Regions from separate parts of the Homo sapiens genome. Here region 1 is linked to region 2. A link means that fine-mapping ties the variant in region 2 to the expression of a gene that starts in the linked region. Tissue or cell type: putamen. Region 2 holds a variant in brackets; the other region holds the start of a gene. All regions are shown on one strand. Distances are between the middles of the regions.

Evidence for each region. PIP is the estimated chance that this variant, and not a neighbour inherited with it, causes the effect.
Region 1: ANXA13 starts here. The variant in region 2 is fine-mapped to the expression of ANXA13 in putamen (GTEx, PIP 0.91).

What each region holds. Positions count from the first base shown.
Region 1 is chr8:123,735,271-123,740,502 of GRCh38, forward strand. ANXA13 (annexin A13) reads right to left here and starts at 2,123. Exons shown (of 11, transcript NM_004306.4): 1 at 2,050-2,123. The coding sequence starts at 2,064. The region is part of intron 1 of LOC105375739 (a long non-coding RNA gene); the gene reads left to right.
Region 2 is chr8:123,709,663-123,714,894 of GRCh38, forward strand. ANXA13 (annexin A13) reads right to left here. Exons shown (of 11, transcript NM_004306.4): 2 at 3,016-3,091. Among named protein-coding and RNA genes, the nearest start is that of ANXA13, 25 kb to the right of the region's middle. The variant G/A (reference allele first, on the strand shown) is at 2,402.

The sequences.
Region 1 (5,232 bases), 26 kb after region 2:
ATATTTGTTTTGGTTGTGTAGCTGTTTCAAAACCACCAGCATTCTAGTTTTGTTTGTACATATTCAAGTAACTTTCTAATGCAAATAAGTTAAGCCATTACTGGGATAGTTTTTTGTTCTTTAAAAAGATTTTGTATTTACTTTTTTACATGTATTCATTCTTTGTGCACATGTTGAGTTCCTTTACTATTTTCTGAAATGTCATAGTGGTCCTGGTGTAGCCTCATGTGCTTGATTTCAAGGAGTTGTTAATGAGACACTGTTGGGAACAGAAACTAAGCCCCTAGAAGAGTTCATTTTTACATTACCTGTAAATACAGTAACAAACTTTTTGCAGGGAAAGATTTCCCTGCTTGGAAGTCACACCTGATGATGGCTGGTGGCTGGTGGAGGGTCCAACATGACAGATCACTGGGGGCTCATATTGGCCCCATGACAGAGCAGGGGTCATACCTATGATTTGGGGGGAAAATAAAGTGCTTACAGGCTGTGGGGCCTCTGGCTCTCCATTCCGTGATGGGTGGCTGAGAGGCTGCACGACTGTCGAGGGTTGGGAGTCCCCTTTAGGCAACTGTTGACTGCCTTCTGAGAGGGTGTACGACTGGCTCTGAGGATTAAAAAAAAATACATAAAAATGCTGGTCCACTCCTAAAGGCCAGCTGCTCCCTAGGTTGACTTTCAAAAGACAAAATTATCCTCCTAAGCTGTGAATGCAGGGTCCATTGATTATTCCTGGGGTCCTCTGCATCTATCAGAAATATTTGAAAAATAGGCTTCAGTTTCTCTGAAAGATACACTGAACGGATGGCTCATAATCTCTGCTGGTATGAAAATGCTATTTGTAGATGATTTGAAAAACAATGCCTTTCCTAAGAATATATTTGTAAGTTTGTAAACATCTGAGTGCAGCTTGAATATATAGCGAAGGAAAAACCTTATAGACAAAGTAACAGTTTACAGAAAGTTTTGGAGTTTTATTCTCTGCTCATAGTGTGCATGAAATATATCATTCTTGCTGTGGAAATTTACAGCAGGTACACAAAACCTTATTAAGATTTGTATTGGAATAGCTTTAGATATACTTCAATGTAAAAAATATTCAAGATTCAACTCTGATCTGTCCTGTGTGTAGTTGGTTCCAAAAGGTAGTGTTTTAGTCAGTTTTTAGTCATTAACTATTTATAGACACACTATTCAGGAGCCTAAACATTTCAAAAGAAATGTAAATTATTAAGTCCATTCCATGGATATTTGCAAATATGTGGATGTTTAGAAATAATAATGGAATATTTTCACCTTGCAATCCAAGTTGTGTGGACTTACATGAGTATTTACCTTGGTCTATTAATATTTGCAACATGAACCTATCTTTCCCACATAACTCTGAATGGGCTTAGTTTATGAAGTTTTATACAAATTTGCTACAAACTAACAGCTTTAGTTATACATTCTACAGATACATATTAACCATTTGCTCTCTGCAAGGCACTATTTACTGCCTTATTTTACATACTTCTTTCTCTTTAGCCCCTCTTAAGAGATTTTTGGCCAATAAGGGAATAATATATCCCCAGTGCTTTTTTTTTTTTTTTTTTGGGACGGAGTTTCACTCTTGTAGTCCAGGCTGGAGTGCAGTGGTGCAATCTCGGCTTATTGCAACCTCCGCCTCCCAGGTTCAAATGATTCTCCTGCCTCAGCCTCCTGAGTAGCTGGGACTACAGGCATGTTCCACCACACCTAGCTAACTTTTTTTTTTTTTTTAATTTTTTTAGTAGAGACAGTGTTTCACCATGTTGGCCAGGCTGACCTCAAACTCCTGACCTCAAGTAATCCGCCCACTCTGGCCTTGCAAAGTGCTGGGAGTACAGGTGTGAGCCACCGCACCCGGCCTCAATGCATTTTAAAAGCATGGTATGCTGTTGCTAAAACCAATATTAAAGGGTAACCATAGTGATAAAGTATACAAGTATCAGTCATGATTTTATAGTTTAAATTCTTCCACATGCTAACCAAAATTAAAACCAATTCCCAAAGGCAATGAGTACTTACATGACGATTGCCCATTTTCCTTTTTCTGAGATGGTTTTTCTGTATTTCATCAAGAGATCAGTCCTCCTACAGGCAAAGTTTACAACAGTTTTCCCCCCGGACATAATATCTCTTGTGTTTAATAAGTAACTTTTGGCACTGAATTTGAATACATTGTTGGGGATGGGTAGGGAGTGGCTCTAGCTACAGATAAACTTAGACTGCCCAGGTTTCCTTGGTACCCATGTTTTTAAAATAATATACTTCTTAATAAATAAAGTTTAGGCTTTTAAAGTTGAATAGCTTCTTCCCACCTAAAAGACTAAACCTGCCTCACTTCTGAATTGTTGAGTTATTCTTTCATATTCTGGTGTTCATTTAAAATATTATGCCTTTTAGTAATGAAAGCATTAACCAAATAGAAAAATATTACTATTTTTTACTAACATTGTTATTATTATTACAGAGAATTTTTCGAAGGCTACATTGCATTACACTAGATCATTTAAAAAATTTTACTGAGTTTTGAATTTAAAAAGTAATATGTGCAGATGGTAAATTTGTTTCTAATAATACATAAAGGTCCTGTGAAAAGTCGGCCTACTGACTTCCTTTTTCCTTCCCCCAGAGGTTTTCCGTGAGTCCTTCCTGAAGTGGTCCATGCATATTCAGCTATGTCCGTCGGTCTGCCTGTCTAGTTACCTACCTCTCTGTTTATCTTGATCCAACTTGTCTTTTCTTCCTCACCAAATGGGTTTGTACAATGTATTCTGTTCCATGCCTTGCATATTTCTTGTCTTTCCTTTTTTTTTCTGAGATTATTACAACATGTTTCTTTTTTTATTTGTACAAACTTATGTGGTACATAAGACATTTTGTTACATGCATATAATGAGTAGTGATCAAGTCAGGGTATTGAGAGTGTTTGCCTGAGTACAATAGATTTCTGTTGAGTACAGCCACCGTACTCTACTATCCAACACTGAATTTATTCCTTCCATCTTAGTGTGTGTTTGTACCCTTTAACCCACTTCTCCTCTTCCCCCGCAACTCACCCTTTCCAGTCTCTTTTCTCCATCTATCCACTCTCTACCTTCATGTGATCAATTTTTTAGCTCCCACATTTAAGGGAGAACATGTGATATTTGTTATAAGGGAGAACATGTGATATTTGTCTTTTTGTGCCTTGCTTATTTCACTTAATATAGTGTATATTTCATATACTAAAGAGATATTTGACACTGGCACATTTCTTTTTCAGTGGCCATGTAGTCAACTGTTATGGATATGAACCAAACCTTATTTCATCAGTCTACCGTTGAAGGTCATTTAGATTGTTTTTGATCTTTTGCATGAATATCTCATACACATCTTTGTTGTGCTTTCTTATCTGTAGAATAAAATCTTAGAATAGAGTTGCTGGCTAAAGACTATGTGCACTGAAAATTCTGATAGCTGTTGCCAAGTTGTCCTCCACACTGACATAAAATGCTGGACCACTCTTAAAGACCAGCTGATCCATGAGGCTTACTTTAAAAAAATGAAAATTTCACTCCCACTATATGAATATACCAGTGTGATTTTCCCTACATATTGGCTAACACTAAATATTGTCAAACTTTGTCATTTCTGCCAACTTCAAAGATAAAAACATGGTGTTTTATTAAATTTACATTTCTTTCATTTGATATCCTGGAAATTGTATATCCCATTTCTTTAAAGCCATTTGTGTATTTTTTTCTGTGGTTTGCTTGTTTGTGGTCTTTATTTTTCTTTTGAGTTATTAGTATTTTCATTATTTGTTTGTAAAACACTTTATTTATAATAAAATCTAGGCCTTCATGAAGTGTAACAATTATTTTTCCCCAGTTTGTTATCTTTTGTCTTTGTTTGTTTTGAGGGTATATATGTGAAGAAAGTATTAGCTCTGATGTATTCAAATATATCAGTCTTTTATTTTTGACTTGCTTAGAAAAACCATTTCTGCATTAAGATGCTTAAATCTTCTTGCATAAGTGTTCCTCCAAGTTCTTTTAATGGCTTAATTTTCAAAGGCTTATATCTTTGATTCATCTGGAATTGATTTTGACATACATTAAGGAAGGAAGGGTGTGTTAGGCTGTTCTTTCATGGCTATAAAGAAAGAACCGGAGGCTGGGTAATTTATAAGGAAAAGTGGTTTTATTTTGGCATATGGTTCTGCAGGCTGTATAGGAAGCATGGTGCTTCCTTTCTGGAGGGCCTCAGGGAGCTTACAATTATGGAGGAAAGTGATGGAGAACCAGTATGTCTCATGGCAAGAGCAGGAGCAAGAGAGGAAGTGCAGAGGTGCCACACATTTCTCAACAACCAGATCATGTGTGAACGCAGAGCAAGAGCTCTCTTATCACCAAAGGGATGGCACCGAGCCATTAATGAGGGATCCACCCCCATGATTCAACACCTCCTGCCAGGTCCAACATCCAGTATTGAGAATTACATTTCAACAGGAGATAGGGAGGGGACAAACATCCAAACTATATCAAAGGGAGTCAGCTTAGTTTTTGTTATTCAGTCAATCCTAGACAGTTACTGGATAATGCACTTTTCCACTATTGGTCTAAGATGCCACTTTTATTTAAAGCTAATTTCTTATGTAACATAGAATTAAAATTTTGTATAGGTTTATTAAATTCTGATTTTATATATTTATTATTTTGTTCTTTAAACTATTATCTGTTGAGTGCCTTGGATGTGCTAATTGTTGGAAAGACGGACAGGATGGATATGGATTTTCCCTTCCTAGAACTTGCAGTCAAATTTCTATACAAGAAACAAACAAATAAATAATTATAAATTGTCATATGGGCTATGGAGAAGATAAGCAGGACGCTAGAATAAAGAGTAACCCGTGTGTGTGTGTGCACATAAGAGTATGTGTGTGTGTGCACACGTGTGTGTGTGTGTACTTTGCTTTAAATGAAGAAAGGGCTTTTCAAGGAGCTCACACTGAAGCTGTGAATTAAAAGAAGGAGTTCATCATTTAAAAAGAGAAAGTGCTCCAAATTGGATGTTCTTAGCTTGTGCTAAGGCTCAACATAGGAAAGAGCTTTGTGAATTGGAGAAAATAAAAGATGTCATTGAGACTGGAGACTATTGGGTGCCACACAGGGTGCCTGGTGTGGAAATATAGTGGTGGGCAAGACAAACTCTCCTCCAGGAATT
Region 2 (5,232 bases):
CTTTCCTACCAGATCTTCCCAATCCCAACTCCTGCAGACTTGTCAACATTTCTTGGGCAAGGCTACCATTCTATGGCTAGATAAGTTTCATATATGTATGTGTGTATATATTTGAGATGGTGTCTCTCTTTGTCACCCAGGCTGGAGTGCAGTGGTGCCATCTCAGCTCAACTGCAATCTCCACCTCCCAGGTTGAAGCGATTCTCCTGCCTCAGCCTCCCGAGTAGCTGGGACTACGGGTGTGCACCACCACACCCGGCCAATTTTTATATTTTTAGTAGAGACGGGGTTTCACCATGTTGGCCAGGCTGGTCTCAAACTCCTGACCTCAGGTGATCCACCTGCCTTGGCCTCCCAAAGTGCTGAGATTACAGGTGTGAGCCACTGCGCCCAGCCAAGTTTCTTATATTAAAGCAAAATATGTTTCCTTGGAACTTCTACCATGGATCCAAGTTTTATTCCTCTGGAGCCATACAAAAAATTTGTGGCCATATTTATTCTACCATGACACCCATTCTAGGAAAGTAAATCTCTACTAATCCACTTCTATGTAAAAAACCTATCACTTGTTTTTGTAAAACATTATGCCAAGTAAAAGAAGCCACATATCATATGATTCTATTTATGTGAAATGTCCAGAATAAGCAAATCTGTGGAGACAGAAAGCTGATTAGTGATTGCCTGGAGGTGAAGGGAGGAAGGGGCTGCTAATGGGTGTGAGGTTTCTTTCTGGGGTGATGAAATGTTCTGGAATAAGTGGAGATGGTCGCAAAATCCTGTGAATATACTAAAACTCTGAACTGCATGCTGCAAAAGGGTGAATTTTATGGTATGCAAATTATATCTCGATAAGCAAAAAATTAGTTTAATAAAACATTCTGTGGACTGACATGGCTCCTACCTATTGTTAATGACACTGAGCAATGTCTTCTCAGTCTGTCCCCACCCCCTCCAGGACTGCAGCCATGTGGCTGAGGTGCCCTAGCTAGGATGTCTCTAAATTGGTGGCATTTGGAGTGAGTGACAAGAATATGTTCAATCACAGTGTTCCCCACTTACTGGCTTGGTGACTTTGGCTGTCTTACTTAAAATGTCAGGTCATCAGTTTCCTCAGCTGGAAAATGGATTTTTGTAAGAACTTGATGAGATTTTGTATATAAAGTGCTTAGTCCAATGCCTGAAAGTTTAACCGTTTCTCAATAAATGTAAAAAAGAAAATCTAGGAAATTAATCCACTTTGCCCCTTGACCCCTCTGTCTCCTTCAATGATTTCACTTGCTTGTTGTTCTGGAACTCCTGATCAGCAAGCCCAGAGTCAATCAATTTTTCCCGTCCTACCTCCAAGGATACAGGGGAAAATCACACAACCATGTGGGCTGGAGCCATGAGAAACCATGATCTCCCTACTCAGTGGGGCCCTTAGTGTGTATCAGCAGTCTTCTGTTGGTCGTCTCCCCCTTCTCTGCTACTCAAGGGCTATTTCAAGCCACCACTCAAGCCCCATACTCCATTGTCAAACCCTTCTCTTTAGCAGACAACCTCACCTACCACTCACTGAGCAATGTCAGGTTACCAGGCATGGATGCCTTCAATTTCTGCCCCAACAACACCTATGAAGGCATCTACTCCAGCTGTCAGTCTCAGTACCTTCCCTCCCTGTCCTGTTCAAGGGAAATCCTTCCATCTGTGCTTTGGATGTCACCCTCTTCCAGGCTTCTGGGACTAGACCTTGTGTCATGAGTGGCTTCCTTGGATCCCAGGGCCTCTCTTCATGGCCCTAGACCTAGATGCTGTCTCCCTCATCCCACCCTGGTCCCTGGTCTACCTTTGTTTTGACTTCCTGCAGAGTCCCCCACTCTTGGCCATGCACTGACCCTTAGGATGTAAACAGCTTCTCCATTTTCAACCCTTGATGGTTGATCTTGGCCAGTTACTCACTTGATTTAGTTCTTTTTTCTTTTTTTTTTTTTGAGATGGAGTCTCTCTCTGTCACCCAGGCTGGAGTGTAGTGGCGCAATCTCGGCTCACTGCAACCTCTGACTCCCTGGTTCAAGCGATTCTCCTGCTTCAGCCTCCTGAGTAGCTAGGATTACCGGCACATGCCAATACCCTCAGCTAATTTTTGTATTTTTAGTGGAGATGGGGTTTCACCATGTTGGCCAGGATGGTTTCCATCTCTTGACCTCGTGATCCGCCTGCTTCGGCCTCCCAAAGTATTGGGATTACAGGCGTGAGCCACTGTGCCCGGCCGATCTACTTCTACATGCTGCTTCCAGGTCCCTAATCCGGCTCTCATCAGACTCAATTCCCCACCATCTCCTAGGGAAGGGATCAGAGGGGTTTAGATCATACCAGGTTTGGCTGGTTTGGCTGTGTCCTCACCCAAATCTCATCTTGAATC[G/A]TAGCTCCCATAATTCCCACATGTTGTGGGAGGGACTTGGTGGGAGATAATTGACTCACAGGGGCAGTTTCCCCCATACCGTTCTCACGGTAGTGAATGAGTCTCACGAGATCAGATGATTTTATAAGGGGAAACTCCTTTCACTTGGTTCTCATTCTCTCTTTCCTGCTGCCATATAAGAAGTCCCTCTGCTCTTCCTTTGTCTTCTGCCATGCTTGTGAGGCCTCCTCAGCCATGTGGAACTGTGAGTCCATTAAACTCTTTTTCTTTATAAATTACCCCACCTCGGGTATGTCTTTATTAGCAGTGTGAGAACAGACTAATACACCAGGATTGCATGAACTGCACTTCTCATGAAGTTTCTCTCACCTCAAGTTCAAATTAAACGTCACAATATCCAACTCCTAGCTGTTATATAGAATCCTGAAAAGTAATAGGATCCTACTGTAATTTTGCGAACTTTAATAAAGAGGTTAGTGGAAGTGATTGACTTGCGTTAGCTCGGAATACACAAGATAGTGAGATGTCAGCTTCCTAACATCATGGGGAAGTTGGACATGAGACCAAGTTTAATCAACTTCAGAAGCAAATTAGCAACAAAATATCTCTCATACCCATTCCTTTGCAGGCTTTGTTCAGCTTTTTGGCATCTCGATCCACATCAAAACCCTGAGGACTGCTCGCTTTAGCCTGGAGAAAATAATTGAAAAGGTGAGATGACAATATACGCATTCCTAAATGATCTCTGGCTAAAATCGGTAGCAAACTGGAGGACCAAATAGTCATCCTAACCAGGGACCAGCTGTCACTTCACACACTGGTACATGCGGAAATCAGCTGGGGAGACTCTGGCCCCAGAGAGGTGGCTGGTACTCCTTGGGGCCAGCTGGCCTTGGATGACCAGGAGAATGGGCCCCTCTGTTCTCAAGGACAATCATCCTGGCCAGCTCTGCAATGAGAGATTTTCATATCAACCCCACCTTTGTGTGTCTGCCTCTGAAACAAAGAATAATACTGTAAGCCAGTGTACTGGAGTGCTTGTTCTCCCCCTTTGTCATGAGACACAGCTATGTCTAAGGAATAGGTCAGAGGCTGAGGGTTCTAGGACCTTATTACAGGTTCATATGGTGACTTGGATCTTTGCCATCCATACAATGAGAGATACATATTTGGTTTGTTGGAGATACTGTAGGAACCAGTAAAAGCACAGTTTTGGTTTTAGTGCTCCTTGGGAAGGTAAAGTCCTGTTTATATAGTGTATTGAGCTGTTTCCCATACTTCAGTCATTGGCACAATACATGCACTATTGCATCCACAGTTACCTATGTCTAAATAATAAGGAAATTATTGTTTGCTTATAATTATTATTTGCTTATTATTTTCTTTTAAATTGACATTTGTTTTTACTTAAAGTTATCTTAAAAAGGAAATTTTTGTGAGCACAAAAATGGAAACCCAGTATTGCTTGCATAAATGGAAGGTAACCATAAATATAAACACATAACTATTAAAAACTGCAATTAACCTGTGAGGTTAATTGTAGTTATGCAGCTGGTAGCTAGGAACACACCCTGAGTTTCCTGTCTTTGCCTTTTCTCATGGAGCTTTTCCTAAGTGATATGTGTCCATATATTTTCTTTTCTTTTTTGAGACACAGTCTCTCTCTGTCAACCAGGCTGGAGTGAAGTGGTGCGATCTCAGCTCACTACAACCTCCACCTCCTGGGTTCAAGTGATTTTCATGCCTCAGCCTCCCCATAGCTGGGATTATAGGTGCACGCCACCATGCCTGGCTAATTTTTTGTATTTTTAGTAGAGATGGGGTTTTGCCATGTTTCCCAGGCTGGTCTTGAACTCCTGAGCTCAGGCAATCTGCCTGCCTTGGCCTCCCAAAGTGCTGGGATTACAGGTGTGAGCCACGGCGCCCGGCATGTCCATATATTTTCCATCCTTCAGTGAAGGCTGGTTTAAGTGCTACTGGCAGTAGCACCGCAGTTCAACTCTCCCTGCTTTCATATCCTTTGGCACCCAGTGGAAGTGAACAGTCAACCACATGCAGCTCAGTGGGTATGTTGCCTTTCTCTGCATGGCATCCTTATTCTCCTTATTTCCCCTTCCCCCATTGTGTGGCCTCACTGGGGCTGTCAGTCATGAGGCTTGAGCCCCTTTGTCCTGCCCTTGGTCACCAATGTAGGCACGTGTCCTGTGACTCTGGCAATCAGGATTGGTTCAGGAGTGAAGATGTAATCCAAGCAGGATTAGAGTCAATTAGAGTCTTTCCCTTGGTGGATACATAGATACTGAGAGAGATACACGTCTGCCTCCTGCTGAGTCTGCTACAGTGAAAGTGCGTGAGTCTAGGGCTCTTAGTGCCCATTTTGTCCACTACATAAAGGGAGAGAGAGAAAGAATCACATTGTACAAATCCTCAGACACAGCAGCGCCTGTGTCCTTGGGCTTCCCCGTTTCATTAGCTAGCAAACTTCCTTGGTCTAAGTTAATATGAGTTGGGTTTCCATCCTTGCGATCCAAAGTGTCCTGGCTAACATCTGTGGGCTGAAGGTGAGTTGGCTTGAGGCTTTAGTTAATGGAGAATCATAGACTCCTAGAGCCGAAAGGAACATCAGGGCCACCTATAACCTCCCTGCCTTTTGGAACATGAGGGCATGCCCCATCTCGCAGCATCTGTTCCTGAAACAAGCCAGAAAGGGGACTGACATTGTTGTACACCTGCTGTGTGCCAGGCAGTTTATAGACCTTTCTTCATTATGCATAGGGAAGAGTGGGCATTACTAGTCTGCCTTCCAGGTAAGGAAACCTGGGTTCAGGCAG